Linked DNA regions of Homo sapiens. The protein of the gene in region 1 purifies or fractionates together with the protein of each later gene. This does not show direct contact. Each region holds a gene or a part of one and is shown in the gene's direction. Other genes may lie near its edges. The genes, in order: DENND1A and LIMA1.

Region 1 (8,312 bases):
GGAGGGGGAGTTGTTGTGCCATTTCATGGGTATAAAGTTTCAGTTTGGGAAGATGAAAAAAGTGCTGGAGGAGGATGGTGGTGATGGATGTATAACAATGTGAATGTACTTAATGCCATTGAAATGTACACTTTAAAAATGGTTACAGTGGTCAACTTTCTGTTATGCACATTTTACCACAATTTTTAAAAATGTATAAAAAATAGAAGGTGAGCAAATGCACCAACTGAATATACTAAGTTCAAATTTAAGAAAGCACTTCCCAAATCTTGTTCTGTGGCTTATTATTCTTGAGGAATGTGCCTCAAAATAAGGGTTTTGTGGTTGTTTAGTTATTTTTTCAAAAAATATTTACCGGTCACTGCCTGCGTGCTAGGCTCTGTACTAGATGTTGAGAAGTAGGTATGGACAAACCTGATGTGGTTCCTCTCTTTATCAATTTGACCATTTAGCAGAATAATATTCCCATTCATTGAAAACCAAATATAGAGCAAGAAGCTTAAATTCTTCATTTTGTTTTATCTTTGTAAAGTGGGTATTATCATCCTCTTATTAAAGAAGAAGAAACCAAGGCTCAGAAAATTTAAGTAACATTCTCCAAGTTCACCCAACTAGCAACCTGGGTCCATCTGGCTCCAGAGTCACAATAACCAAAAGAAGAAAGCAATCCAGGATGGGCGCCGTGGCTCACGCCTGTAATCCCAGCACTTTGGGAGGCTGAGGTGGGCGGATCACAAGGTCAAGAGATTGAGACCAGCCTGGCCAACATGGTGAAACCCTGTCTCTACTAAAAATACAAAAATTAGCTGGGCATGGTGGCACACGCCTGTAGTTCCAGCTACTCATGTGGCTGAGGCAAGAGAATACCTTGAACCCGGTAGGTGGAGGTTGCAGTGAGCTGAGAAGTGAGCTGAGATTGCGTCACTGCACTCCAGCCTGGTGACAGAGTGAGACTCAAAAAAAAGAAAACAATCCAAAAGTCCATCAGCTAAAACCATTGAAATGTACACATTTAAAGTGGTAAATTGTATGGTTGGTGAACTACATTTCAATAAAAAATAATATAATCACAATTTAACGTATTAGGAACAACAGACCACTGAATCCTGGCACACAGACCATTTGTTCTGCTATTTCGTATTGTATAATTGGGGGCCAATAGAGCTCCCTGGGGTTGCTGTCTTCCCCTCAATAAACACAGCTCCCTAAATTCCAAGCAGAGAAACCAAACAGGTACAAAAGAGCAAGAGCAAGCTTGGAAACTGAGGAGCATCAAAGTGTCAATGCAGGTGGTATCATCCCTACCGTTGGACTTTTATCTGCTAGATCTGCTTAGCCTATTTTGACAACAGTCAAGAAGGCAAAGTTCCTAAATCCTTTCTCTTCACCAGAAGATTTACATTCCAACAATTGATTATGGCATGTATTTGGCACAGAGGTCTCATTTCATTTGAATGACGTCAGATTCACCTAGGTTTAAAGGAATTATAAAATCAATCAGCCACTGAATTATAGAACTTTAGAACCCAAAAGGACTTTGGAAGGAGGTCACCTGGCCTGATTCTCTTATTTTGGTTAAATCTGTGGCTTGCTCAAAATCACATAGCCAAGCATGGCTGAGCCTGCTGGGTGTCTTGCAATATCTATCCTCCCCTTCTTTCCTGGAAATGCCATTCCCTTCTCCCTACCTTTCAGCTGCGGACCTTATTGTCTGGTTGTCTGGAATAAAGGCTGTATTTTCTAGTGAGGTGTGGTTGCATGACTAAATTCTGGCCACTGGGATGTAAATAGAAGTGGTGTGAGTAATTCCTGGGAAGTACACTTAAAGGTCAGAGTTTGACGTGGACAGATCCTCCTTCCTTCCTGCAGGCTGGGCTGCAGATTAGATAGCTAGAGTTTAAGCAGCCATCCTGGACTATGAGGTGGAAATTCTTCCTGGAGAATCGGAGAGCAATAAGATAGAATTCTGGGTCTCCATTAATTATAGAATTGTCATACCAGCTCTGGAATGTTAATCGCCAGACTTTATGTGAAAGAGAAATAAAATTCTATTTTTTTCAACAATTGTTATTTCACTTCTCTATCATTTACAGTTGAATTGAATTCTAACTGATACAGAACGTGAACAAACAAGTTGGGCTGAGAACTCAGGTCTCCCGAATCCAAGCATGGTACTCTTTATTATTATGTTGATCAGTTTTACAAAATGTATTTATTTATTTCAGAGATGGGGCCTCGCTATGTTGCTCAGGGTGGAGTGCAGTGGCTATTCATGGGCATGATCATAGCGTGCTGCAGCCTCAAAATCCTAGGCTCAGCCTTAAACTCCTGGGCTCAGCCTCCTGAGTAGCTGGCACTACAGGAACAAGCCACGGAGCTGGGTACTTTTTTTTTTTTTTTTTTGAGACGGAGTTTTGCTCTGTCGCCCAGGCTGGAGTGCAGTGGCATGATCTCGGCTCACTGCAAAATCCGCCTCCTGGGTTCACGCCATTCTCCTGCCTCAGGCTCCCATGTAGCTGGGACTACAGGTGCCCACCACCACGCCCAGCTAATTTTTGGTATTTTTTTTTAGTACAGATGGGGTTTCACCATGTTAGCCAGGATGGTCTCCATCTCCTGACCTCATGATCTGCCCGCCTCAGCCTCCCAAAGTCCTGGGATTACAGGCATGAGCCACCATGCCCGGCCTTTGTTTTTCCTTTGAGACAGTCTTGCTCTGTTGCCCAGGCTGGAGTGCAGTGGCGTGATCTCGGCTCACTACAACTTCTGCCTTCTGGGTTCAAGCGATTCTCCTGCCTCAGCCTCTTGAGTAGCTGGGACCACAGGCGCCTGCCACCACACCCGGCTAAATTTTTTCTATTTTTTAGTAGAGATGGGTTTTCACCATGTTGGTGGTCAGGCTGGTCTTGAACTCCTGGCCTCAAGTGATCCACTCGCCTTGGCCTCCCAAAGTGCTGGGATTACAGGTGTGAGCCACCATGCCCAGCCACTGGTTGCCTTATTAATTTTAATAATAAAAGCCAAACGGTGCTAAGTGTTTTGTATATAATAGTTGCTTTTAATTTTTGAGTACTTAATATGTGATAATCACTGTTTAAATACTTTATAAATGTCACTAACTCACTTAATCCTCGTGTCAACTCACTAAAATAGGTCTATTATTATCACCATTTCCATTTTACAGACAGAGAACCTGAGACACACAGAGAAGGAATAATTCACCCAAGGCCATATATTTAGTAAGAGGTAGAGCTGAGATTTAAACCCTGGCAGTCTGGTTCTAGAGCCTGTGCTCTTTGCTCCTATGTTACACTCGCTCTTATGATGGAAGCTTCTCATCACTCTCTCTGCCCATTTTACGGGGGAGGAAACTAAAACATACACTTGTCTAATCATTTGCATAAAATCTGCCAGTCAATGCTGAAGCCAGAATTAGAAGCCACGTTCCTAACTCCCAGTCCAGTGCTCTCTCCTCAGACCACCCTGCTGTCTCTGAGGCCACCTGAGCAGACACATAATCCCCACCTTCTACCTCCCTCTCCAACACACACACACACACACACACACACACACACACACACACACACCCCACCCAGCAGGCACCCAGACATATTTGTGGCCAGGATGGCTACAACCTCCTTTGAAAAGCAGCCAGCTTTGCCCTCCACCAATAACTTTGTTTTATTTATAGTCTCCTGCTCAGAGCTTTTGAACTGGCTCCCATTCCAGGGAAGATCTTGATAGCAACTGTTCCTTGGAGAAGTTTCATAGGTGAATAAACACCACAGAGCTCCTGCCTGTCTAGCAGAGCTTTGCTCCTGGGGGTGTTTACAAGTCGGTATTGGTGTCTGGGTGCATAAGACTTTAAATTCAAAATGACAGTTTGGACATTTTCACTTTTTTTTTGGTTTTCATTTTAAAAAGTTTACCCTTTGACTTCAACAACCTAAAGGCAGAGGCAAAAGGGAGAAACTATCTTTATTCAGAAGGTGACTCCAACAGAAGAAGTCTTCTACGACTTATCTTCTGGCTTTCTTTCCTCCCATCCTGGCCGGGAGCTAGGACGCAGGACCAGTTACGTAGAGGCTATGGGGTGGGGGTAGGGTGGGGAGGCACTCCATGCATTTATAAGAACTAAAATGGCAGAAGTGATGAATGGCATTTCGGGACAGAAAATTGGAAAAAAAAAAAAAAAAAGGAAAAAAAGCCTAATATTAAAAATGTCTTTGGACTTGTGGCCAAAGGTGCCACCTTAAAGCATGACTATGTCACAGGTGTCTGGAATGATTCAGTCTGGACACTAATCTTGGCTTCTTCACTCGTTGCTAGTTATGTGACCTTGGGAATGTGGCTCAGTTTCCTCTTTGTAAATTAGGGAGATGAACACAGGATTATTGTGAGGATTGGCACTAATGATGTACGGAAATACTGTGTCTGATGCAGAAAGGGCACTCACCCGCTCATTAAAGGGTGGCTAATGGTAGCTGTGATTATTGCTTCCTTTATGATCCCTCTGGCCCTAGAGGGGATGAAATTGAGGTGTTCATGGAAGTGAATCCCAAGGGGGAGCAGGGGTAGGTAGCAGGCTGGTGATCTCGGCTCTCAAATCCTTTCATTTGCATTGAGTTAATCTCTATCAGGGACTGTTGTGTTAACAGGAGGCTTCGATGTTGGAGTTCCCAAAACGGCTGATAAAGGGAGGCAGAGGTCCTCAGCGGGAGGGCAGAGCTGAGCCACCACGTGGGTCCACGAAGCCCCCAGGTGGCTTTCCTGTAGGTATGTGGGGTCTCCTTCAAGCTCTAAGGGGAAAGGAAGAGGAAAGGCCTTCAGATGGGGAAGTGGACGGTGTGATGGAGAAGAGGTTCTGCACGGAACTTACTGGAAGGTGCGGGATGTTAAAGGGAAAACGTGTTTTCATGGAGGCCTGGGCGGGGGATTAGCTCTCCGTTAGAGAGGCTGGGTGGGAGGCCTCCAATGGGAGGATTGGTGGCGGTTTCATCGGGAGGGCTTGGGGTCTCCATGAGAGGATTAGGGTCTCTTCAGGGCGGCTGTGAGTGGAGGTTTCCAGCGGGGCGCAGTGGGGTGCAGATGTGTAAGGGCCTGCAACGGAACGCCAGAGTCCTCCGGGGCCCGCGCCCTGGGAGACGTGCGGGTGACCGCGCTCCCGCCCCGCCCCCACCGGCCACGGCCCCGCCCCCGCGAGCGGACTACACTTCCCAGCAGCCCCAGCGGGCAGCGGCGGCGGCAGCGCGGGCGGGAGGGGCGGTGGTGAGAGGCGGAGGGGGCGGCGCGCGCCGGGCACGCGCGCCGGCGACCATGGCGTTCGCCGGGCTGGAGCGAGTACATTAACCCCTGGAGGCGGCGGCGGCGGCGAGGGAGCGAGCCTCGAGCGGGCGGGCCCCAGCCTGAGGGAAGGGAGGAAGGGGCGGGGAGAGCGCCAGAGGGAGGCCGGTCGGCCGCGGGCGGGCGGGCAGCGCAGCGCCGAGCGGGGCCCGCGGGCCCATGAGGAGGCCTGGGGACCATGGGCTCCAGGATCAAGTGAGTGCGGCCGGGCCGGGCGGAGCCGGGCCGGGCGCGGGGCGGCGAGGCCGGGCCAGGGCTGCAGGCCGCGGGCCGCGCGGGGGACTTGTTGCCGAGACCAGAGGGGCGCCCCGCGTGACGCCGGCACGCGGGGAGGGGGACGGTTGCTATGGCGATCCAGGGAGGCGCGGGGGCGGGGTGCGCGCGGGGTGGCAGGGCGCCGGGGGTCAGGTGTCCCCTCCTCACCTGGGGGTCGGAACAGCTGAGATTACAGGGCGGCCCCCTCCCCGGGTTTACGGAGAGCCCCTGAAAATGGTCCTTCAACTGTGGGGAAGGGGAGTGGGAAAGCCCCGGAAGCACCTCCCCATGTTTGGGCATGTTTGGGGCGCCCCTGAAAGTTGGCAGGTCCGGAGAGGTTGCAGCCTGGCCGCTTGAGGCCTGCGGCCCCCACAGAAGTCGCGTGAGGTTCTTAGAGGGAGGGGCCGCTCATGGTGTGGCCACCTAAGGTGTGGATGGCCGGGGAGGAAGGCCTGTCTCTCTATTTCCCCCCTCTTATCTGTGAAAATCTCCACGCAGCAAGGTCCAAAGGCTGTGAAGGAGGATACCTCTGTGTTGTAACCGAGCACCTGCTCTTGATAATCGTTGGAAAGGCTTTGTAACTCAATCTGGCGAATTCCCTCACTCATTCATTCACCTGGAGTTCCCGGTGGAGGGTTAGCTTTCCGGGGAAATTGTTGATACATGTAACTTCAGAATCCACTGAAACATTGTTGCTGTCCTTGTAGACTTAGAAGTTGACTTTGGAAAGTGCAACTCTTAAGCGGTCCAATTTGGGTGTGTGGCTTTCGACTCTATCTCCCCTCCCAGCCAGGTCCTCTTGTGGCCTCTCCCTTCCTCTGCCCCAGAACTGGAGATGTTTTATCTCTAATTACTAACAAATGTTCACTTTTTCCTCTGTGACTAATAGAATTGTTTAAGGGCATTAAAAAGCAAAGTTGACAGCATAGGCTTTTCTGTAAAACAACTTTCCTAGGACACTTTAAACCCTCTTACAAGAAAGTTTGTGGAATGTGTTTATTTCAGCATTTTGAGAATTGTACTAGGGAAGTTTGAAAGGAGAAGGGCCTTAAGGGTGAAACTAATAATTATTCAAACATTGCATCTCATGTCCAGGTGATGCCCGTGCAGTGTGACCCTTGCCCAGCCTTGCAGTCCCCCGTGTGGTTAGGCTTCTCATTTACAAAATATGTATGAGATGCGCTGCAGCAGCCTTGAGACATCTGCTGAATGAAACTAGAAAAGTTTGCTTATGGTAATGAAAATGGAAGAGTCGCATGAACACTCTGTTAAATCTTTATTTTTGTGGAAATGAGAAAAAAGTTAGAAGCATGCTCCAAACAAGAGCTTGAGAGGCTTGGGAGGTAAAAAGATGTCGTTTGTGAAACATTGGGATTAAAGAGGCACTCAAGTTTAGCTCCTGCTTCCAAGTAAGAGTTGTAAACTTGGATTTCAATAGCACTTAGAAACACTTTCCAGAAGCCAACTTAGAGTTGCAGAGTATGCGTGAGGACACTTACCCTTCTTGTTACAGAAAAGTTCAGAAACTTGCCTGACATGAAGCAGTGAGTGTCAGAACCAGTATTAAAATCCAGCAAGTAAAAGTTCAGATGGCTAGCCATCAAATCTCTCTGTTGCTCTCCAAGGTAGCAGGTTGACAAATACATTTCTCAAATGTGTTTTGTGGAACCCATCGCTAATTCTGAGCACTTGGGTTAGGGAATTTACTAAGGCATGGAATTGTATTAAGCGTGAAATGAGTATGAAGAATAGCCTTATTGATCTTGAAACTAGACTACTCTGTGATAAAAACTTAGGCTTGGGAAATATGTTAGCTTGTGGTGAAACCGAAAGAGAATATGAAGAGAGAAGTTATGAAAAGTAGTTGTGATTTATAGTGACTGTTGATTATGCAACTTCTGCCTGTAGCTAGGAATGGGGATGGACAGGAAATTACCCACTTAAGTGCTCCTCTAGTTGTTGGAGAAGACAGAGCTTTGGTTACTACTGGCTGGCTTTCCCTCCTGGCAGGGCATTCAAGATGTTCTCCTGGCTGTGGTGAAATCTAAGTGTGCAGGTTCCATTGAATAGGACAGTCTTGGAGGTAGGGACAAGGGGGAGGGGTTCCTTTTGTTTTCTCTTGCTTATCTCTGATGCAGCAAGTCAGTTGACTAGGTGGAATCAGGTCTAGGTTCAAATTCCAGCTCTTTTTAATGCTAATTATGAAACTTTACACAGACTGCCTTTTCAACCTCAGTTTCCCTGAAGGTAAAATGGGGAGGACTGTGTCCAGGTTGTAGGGTTATTATGAGCATTGAACACAGTATCAATGTAAATGTCAGGTCCATGTTAAAAACTCAGTAATTGTTAGGTTTTTTTCTTTTTTTTCACCTTCTGTATCAAAAGACTAAGAACATTACTGTATATTAGAAATGTCAGAGAAAGGTATGTTTAAGGTAATGGAGAAGAAAATTTTAATGACCAAGGAATTAGGCTGTTAACATGCAGAGTAGGGCTTAACATTGTCTCATTATTAAAAAATAAAAGTTGATTTAAAACAATATTGTGTGTAATTGTGAAGCTGGTGTCTGTTGTGTGATCAGTGGTAAAGCACGTGAGTTGCTAGGCACAGGTGTTGAGATTTCGTGTTTGATCAGACTTCTCTTTTAAGTTTAAGCCTGGTTGAACACAATCTCTGTCAGGTACCGTGGAAATCCTTAATGTGAACCATTTCA
Region 2 (7,376 bases), on another chromosome or scaffold:
TCAGGTTACTAACAAACCAGTGGTTGTAAATGAAGTAGTTTCTACTTAATGATTATGGAGTTGAGAGTCTATGGTGGATGATAAGGTAGGACCATACTGATGAGTTTATTCTGAAGCTGGGTGCAGAGTCCTCAAGACTCAGTCAAATTATTGTGCTACTGAAGACCTCTTTTCATAAAAAGGATGGAGTTTGACCTAACAAGCAATCCATTATTCAGCATGTCAGATGATTTCTTGACACGTGAAAACTTTCTAGAGACTTCCTGTGTCCACTCATAAGAAGTTAACATGATACCATGAAAATTTTACATTCTTTTGATGTTCTTTTAAATAATTTCTTAATACTACTACCCTGGGCCGGGCGCGGTGGCTCACGCCTGTAATCCCAGCACTTTGGGAGGCCGAGGCGGGAGGATCACGAGGTCAGGAGATCGAGACCATCCTAGCTAACATGGTGAAACCCAGTCTCTACTAAAAATACAAAAACAAAATTAGCCGGGCGTGGTGGCAGGCGCCTGTAGTCCTAGCTACTCGGGAGGCTGAGGCGGGAGAATGGCGTGAACCCGGGAGGCGGAGCTTGCAGTGAGCGGAGATCGCGCCACTGCACTCCAGCCTGCGTGACAGAGTGAGACTCCGTCTCAAAAAAAAAAAAAAAAAAAAAAAAAAAATACTACTACCCTGAAACTAAGAACTTTCATCTTTAGGGGAAAAAAAGATGCAACTTTTTTGTACTTCTGATAACAAGTGTGGATCTATTTTCCCCCTTAATTATTCTGTAACAGAGTTTATGATATGGAAAACTTTACAGTCCTTCAAATATGTTTTGTCTTGCACAAAGTATTGCCATTTTTGTTTCATTACCCATAAATTAGTCCCAATATCCGCTTTACTTAGTTTTAGATTTCCACAATCTTTTTTTTCTCCATAAACTGAAATTCAAGCTAATGCCCCGGGACTTCTTTTATTTCATAGTCAGTTTTACTAAACAGGTAACATTTGCTCAGCTTTGGCGTCTGAGCAAAAATTTGGCTTCCAGCACTACAGGAAAGCTGTCTGTCCATGCATAGTATCCAGTGGTTTCTGTCTAACGGTCCTTACCCCTTGGCAATAACTGACCAAGTGAACAACTTGTCTAGTTCTTCCTTTCATTTGCTTTTCTTGACATGACTACTATCTGGTTCTCCATTTTCTAATCTAACCACTTACTCCCATGATCCATTAACTCAGTCTTTTTGCCCCTTAAATGCCGGGTTCACCATAGCCCTGCTCAGCTTCCTATTCTCACTATACTTTCTCCCTTTATAATCTGATTTCTTTCCATGACTTCCACTATCACCTCCATGTAAGTGGCCTGAAAATTTATCTTTTTAAAAAACTTCTTTCATATTGTATATATAATTGTTTTATTTTCATATATGCCAACACATTTAAAAATAAAAATTATAGATATTTATATTATTATAAAATAAAAATTATATATGTTTATTATAGAAAATGTGGAAAAAACAGGCCGGGTGTGATGGCTCATGCCTGTAATCCCAGCACTTTGGGAGGCTGAGGCGGGTGATCACTTGAGGTCAGGAGTTCGAGACCAGCCTGGCCAACATAGTGAAACCCCATCTCTACTAAAAATACAAAAATTAGCTGGGCATGGTGGCGCATGCCTGTAGTCCCAGCTACTAAGGAGGCTGAAGCAGGAGAATCCCTTGAACCCAGGAGGCAGAGGTTGCAGAGAGCCAAGCTCATGCCACTGCACTCCAGCCTGGGTGACAAAGCAAGACTCCATATCAAAAAAAAAAAAAGAAAAGAAAAGAAAAAAAGAAAATGTGGAAAAAACAAATTATAAAGAAGACAAAATAACCCATATTCCATAATCTGTTCCAGAGAGATCTATCATTTGATATATTTCCTTTCAGTGGTTTTGTTTTCTTTGATATACACACACTCACATAAACACAAAGGTAATTGAACTCATACTGTTGCAGTAGATATAGTTTTGTGTCTGCTTTTTTTGCTTTATATTATTTTTCATAGCATCAAAAATTTTTGAAAACATTTAAATGGATATTTAATCTCCATTGTAATCTATTTAATAATTTATTATATTGAGGTTGCATAATTTATTTGTGTTTTGGTTTTACATTAAATGAAAACAATTGAGAACAAATTTATGCATAAATCTTTGTGCAAATGACTCATTATTTCCTTAGGTTAGATTCCCAGAGGTTGAATTACCAGGTCAAGGAGTGTGAAAATTTAAAAATACTAAACCTGCTCCCAAATTGCTTTTTGTAAAGATTAGACTAATTAACATTCTCAACTGCAGTGATTGTGAGTGCCCATCTTAGTGCGGCCTTGGTAACATTGAATATTATTATTATGATGATTTTTGAGATGGAGTCTCGCTCTGTCGCCCAGGCTGGAGTGCAGTGGCACGATCTCTGCTCACTGCAAGCTCCACGTCCCGGGTTCATGCCATTCTCCTGCCTCAGACTCCTGAGTAGCTGGGACTACAGGTGCCCGCCACCACACCTGGCTATTTTTTTTTTTATTTTTAGTAGAGATGGGGTTTCACCGTGTTAGCCAGGATGGTCTCAATCTCCTGACCTTGTGATCCGCCCACCTCGGCCTCCCAAAGTGCTGGGATTACAGGCATGAGCCACCTCGCCCAGCCCGTCTGGCTAATTTTTGTGTTTTTTAGTAGAGACAGGGTTTCACCCTGTTGATCAGGCTGACCTCAAGCCCCTGACCTCAGGAGATCTGCCCACCTCGGCCTCCCAAAGTGCTGGGATTACAGCATGAGCCACCGCGCCCGGCCCGAATATTATTTTTTAATCTTTACTAATTTGATAGGCAGAAATGAATTAATTTGTATTTCTTTGCTAGTGAGAGAGAACATTTTTCATACATTCATTTCTGTTTCTTCTGTGAATTATGTCTGGGTTAATCCCACTCCCATTTTTATTTGGGCGTTAACATTTTAATTATGTTGGTTTTTTGTTTGGTATTCTTTTATTTGGAGCGTTTTGTGGGGGAAGCACAGGCTTTTATTAGACCAAATAGAGTGAATGGAGTGACAAAGTGGAAAGTATACAGAAGTTGGAATTGTGGTGTTATAAATGCCCATTGTTTTGAGGGGCCAGAGCTTGTGATCAATGAAGCAGTACTGCAGAATGGAAAGGGTGCTATTTGAGAGTCAGGATTCCCAACTTAATGTTGTCATCAACCAATCAGGTGATCTTGGACAAGTCATTGATTCATTGACTCAGAGCCTCATCTGTAAAATGAGAGGGTTGGGCTTTTGATCCCCAAGACTGGACAACCTCTGTGCTGAAAGGATGCCTTTGGAGCTACTACTGTTCACTAGACATTCTGGAATTACTTTCTGTCTCATCTCTAACCTTTCACCTAATTTTAGATATATAGAGCCTGAGGAAAGACTGGATGCAGTAAAGGCAGTGTCCACCGGAGTAGCAAGGGGAGCCTGGGGACAGCTTAATTTGTTTGTGCCCTTTAACTTTCAGGAAAATAGAAGTATAAAAAAAAAATTGAATGGGGTTCTTGCTGTGGGGGTTGGGGGAAGAAAAGAAAAAAAAAGAAGTCAAAAAGATTGGTATTTTTTTAGGCACTCCCATAGACTGACACTTGGAAACTGGTAAGATAAAATCACAGAAGCCCTGCTGACCTGTGCCACAAAACTCGATTATCTACAATGTATGTGAAAAATGTCTCATTTTGTGACTAGAGGGTGTACGTCTCCAAGGCAAGTTATTTAACAACTTCTTCTACTTCATACAGAACCATTCTTAGTGTTTTTCTTTGAGATTGGTATAAACTCTTCTAAGAATATTAATTTTTTGTCCTGTGGTCAAATATTTAACCAGTTTGCCTTTTAATTTTGTATATAGTATATTATTACTTATCTATAGATTTTTTTTTTTTTGAGACAGTGTGTCACTCAGTCACCCAGGCTGGAGTGCAGTGGCACAATCTCGGCTCACTCTAGCCTCCTCCTCCAGGGTTCAAGTGATTCTCATGCCTCAGCCTCCCAAGTAGCTGGGATTACAGGCACATGCCACCACGCCTAGCTAATTTTTGTATTTTTAGTAGAGACAGGGTTTCTCCATATTGGCCAGGCTGGTCTTGAACTCCTGACCCAGGTAATCTGCCCGCCTCGGCCTTCCAAAGTGTTACAATTACAGGCGTGAGCCACCACACCCAGCCTGGATTTTTAAATTTGAGATTTCTTCTGGTGCTGTGATGTTTAGAAGGCCTTCACCATCCAGAGATTGGTTAAATACTCACTTTCATTTCCTTCTGATTTTTACCGTTTTACACTTTATATTTAATTCTTTAATTTGTATTGAACTTACTTTGAAGTACCAAACCAATATGTTTAATGCCTTTGTATATCTGAGTTCCAGATCTGTATTTCCAGCTACCTGTTAGGCTATGTGGATAGTCCCTGTACGCCATGCATCTGCGTACACCCAGATTCACTAAGGAGAAAGCTTGAGGTTGTACTTACCACTTTAATACTTTTCTCCACCCACATTTGATCAATCCCCAAGTTTGGCTGATTCTGCCCCAGGGGTGATAAGAGTTCTTTAATCAGTCTTCTAATTCAGATTCCCCTTTTAGTTTTTTGCCAGAGTCCTTGAGTCCTTGAGTAATCCTTAGAGTTGGCTTCAGTTTTTCCCTTGCAGAAAAGTTATCAGAGTTGTCATAAAAAAAAAAAGCACTGATTTTCAAAATATGGTTCCTTTAATTGCCTGTGTTAGAATTACCTGGCAGTGGTTAAAAAGGTAGAGTCTCAGGTCCCACCTAGACCTGCAGATCAGTGTGTCTGAGGGATGGGCCTGGGAACCTGAAGTTTATCAAGTACCTCAAGAGATTTATATACAAACTTAAGGGGAGACAATGCCTAAGTAAATTCAGTCTAGCTTTCTGACATGCTCTTCAAGACACCCACACCCCCACTCTGACAGCCTATTCTTTTAGGCTTATCTCCCACAACACGACCCACCCACCTGGCACTGTGACCCTACAATAATTCTCTGTTTCCTGGACCTGCCCAGTTCTTTCCTGCCTCTGTGCCTTTGCTCATGCAGTTACCACAGCCTCATGCTCCTCCCCTTCCCCACCCTCTTGTTGAAATCCTTTTCCTTAAGAGCCCAAATCAAATGCTACCTTTTTAAATTTTTTTAATAAAAAAAAGCCTTTTCTAATTTCTTCTACTTGAATCAGTGGCTGCCTCCCCAGTCTTTATACTTAACACTTGATTTTTGCTTCATTTCTTACCTTACTTAATGTTGTCACTATTTATAAATTATTGCTTCCTTGTAAGATTACAAGCCTTTTAGGTATGAGAACCTTTCCCTTCCTTTTCATTTTGTGGCCATTATGCACATATAAACAATTAAGAACTCATTTTATTTTATTATTTTGAGACACAGTTTCATTCTGTCCCAGGTTGGAGTGCAATGGCGCAATCTCAGCTCACTGCAACCCCCACCTCCTGGGTTCAGGTGATTCTCATGCCTCAGACCTCCGGAGTAGCTGGGACTACAGGCACGCGCCACCACGCCTGGCTAATTTTGTTTTTTTTTTGTATTATTAGTAGAGACAGGGTTTCACCATGTTGGCCAGGCTGGTCTAGAACTCCTGGCCTCAAGTGATCTGCCCACCTCAGCTTCCCAAAGTGCTGGGATTATAGGCATGAGCCACCGCACCTGGCCAAAGTACTCATTTAGTACATGAAATATATCTGATCTTGCAAACACACTTTTATATAATAATGTTTGGCTTTGTATCACACATAGAATAAAATTAAAATCCTTTAGCATTGTTATTAATCCGTATTTAATCTGACTACTACTCATCTCTGTGTCATCGCATGCTTCTCACTTACTTCCTAGCTGTATTATTCCTTCCTCAGGGCCTTTGCATTTGCTTTCCTCTACCTGGAAAACTCCCCCATCTATTGTCTTCACCTTGCTGGCTGCATATGTTCTCCCCATCATTCAGGTTTCAGTTCAAATGTCATTCACTCAATGAGGCCTTCCCTGATCACTGCCTAAAGAAGCTGTTCGTGTCCCTGTTCCTACCACAACTCCAGTTACTCTTTTTGTATTTCCTTCACACCACTAATCACAGTCTTTAATTGTCCGGCTTCTCCAGTGGAATGGAAATTTCATGAGAGTAGAGACCATGTCTGTCTTTTTTTTTTTTGAGATGGAGCCTCACTCTGTCACCCAGGGTGGAGTGGAATGGCACGATCTTGACTCACTGCAACCTCCAACTCCCAGGTTCAAGAGTCTCCTGCTTCAGCCTCCCAAGTAGCTGGGACTCCAGGCACCTGCCACCACACCCAGCTAAATTTTTTATTTTTGGTAGCGACAGGATTTCACCATGTTGGCCAGGATGGTCTGCATCTCTCGACCTCATTATCCGCCTGCCTTGGCCTCTCAAAGTGCTGGGATTACAGGCGTGAGCCATCGCGCTCGGCCTTGTCTGTCATTTTTAACATTATATCTTCAGCACTTGGAATACTGCCAAAGACTTGGTAAATGCTAAATAAATATTTGTTGAATGAATGAATAAGCCTTGAAGATGGACTTTTCATTTGGACAAGTCTTGTTTTGTTTTGCAATCCAAAGTGTTGTATTTTTTTTAACTGGACAACAGCTGAGGTCGGTCCATCTGGGTTCAAATCAGGTAGCAGTCTCTGAGGAGTTCGGAAGGTAGCAGGACAAAAGTTTGGATACTGTGACAACCAGGATTAAGTTCCATCTGAGTGCAAGTTTTCTAAGGTGTTTCCAGGATCCAGGCCACTATTTTCCTACCACTATAGCCATCTACTTCCCAGATTGTTACTCTGGATTATACTAGTCTATCAACTCCTATTACATTTTCAAAAGCCAGTGTGGCAAAACTAAAACCCAATTACTGGAATCCACAAACAACCAGAAGTTTTCTTCTGTTTTCATTCTCTAGGAGAAAAATTAGAAAGCTATCTAGAATCTTCAAGAAAAAATGAAATGATTTTCATTATACTTACTATTAACACATGCTCTGAAATGTGTTACTGTTTAGACACACTGTTTAGACAGTGTACTGATTAGAAAGATTTTCAGCAACAGCTTTAAACAAAAGGTTTCTTATTAACATCTAGTTGAACCAGACATTATAATGAATTAGTTCTAATTTCTATTTCTTTTCATTGGTTAGTCTTTTTTAATTCCATTTTTTTTCTTAATGCTGGCTTGAAGTTTTATTTAAAATAATGCTTTGTAGAGTAGCTGACAGTTTTCAAAGTACTTTTGCTTTTATCCTTTCATTTAGTCCTCATAAGCATCCTGTGTGAATCAATACCT

What was found.
Region 2: the proteins of DENND1A (region 1) and LIMA1 purify together in Homo sapiens (affinity purification with mass spectrometry; 2 studies listed by BioGRID and IntAct, with this or other methods). This does not show direct contact.

What each region holds. Positions count from the first base shown.
Region 1 is NC_000009.12:123,927,115-123,935,426, reverse strand, and holds the start of DENND1A (DENN domain-containing protein 1A), read left to right. Parts: upstream 1-5,300; 5' UTR 5,301-5,502; coding exon of another isoform or gene 5,503-5,521; coding exon 5,522-5,538; intron 5,539-5,761; exon of another isoform or gene 5,762-6,770; coding exon of another isoform or gene 6,771-6,832; intron 6,833-8,312. UniProt on the Homo sapiens protein: Guanine nucleotide exchange factor (GEF) regulating clathrin-mediated endocytosis through RAB35 activation. Promotes the exchange of GDP to GTP, converting inactive GDP-bound RAB35 into its active GTP-bound form.
Region 2 is NC_000012.12:50,273,437-50,280,812, reverse strand, and holds part of LIMA1 (LIM domain and actin-binding protein 1), read left to right. Parts: intron 1-7,376. UniProt on the Homo sapiens protein: Actin-binding protein involved in actin cytoskeleton regulation and dynamics. Increases the number and size of actin stress fibers and inhibits membrane ruffling. Inhibits actin filament depolymerization.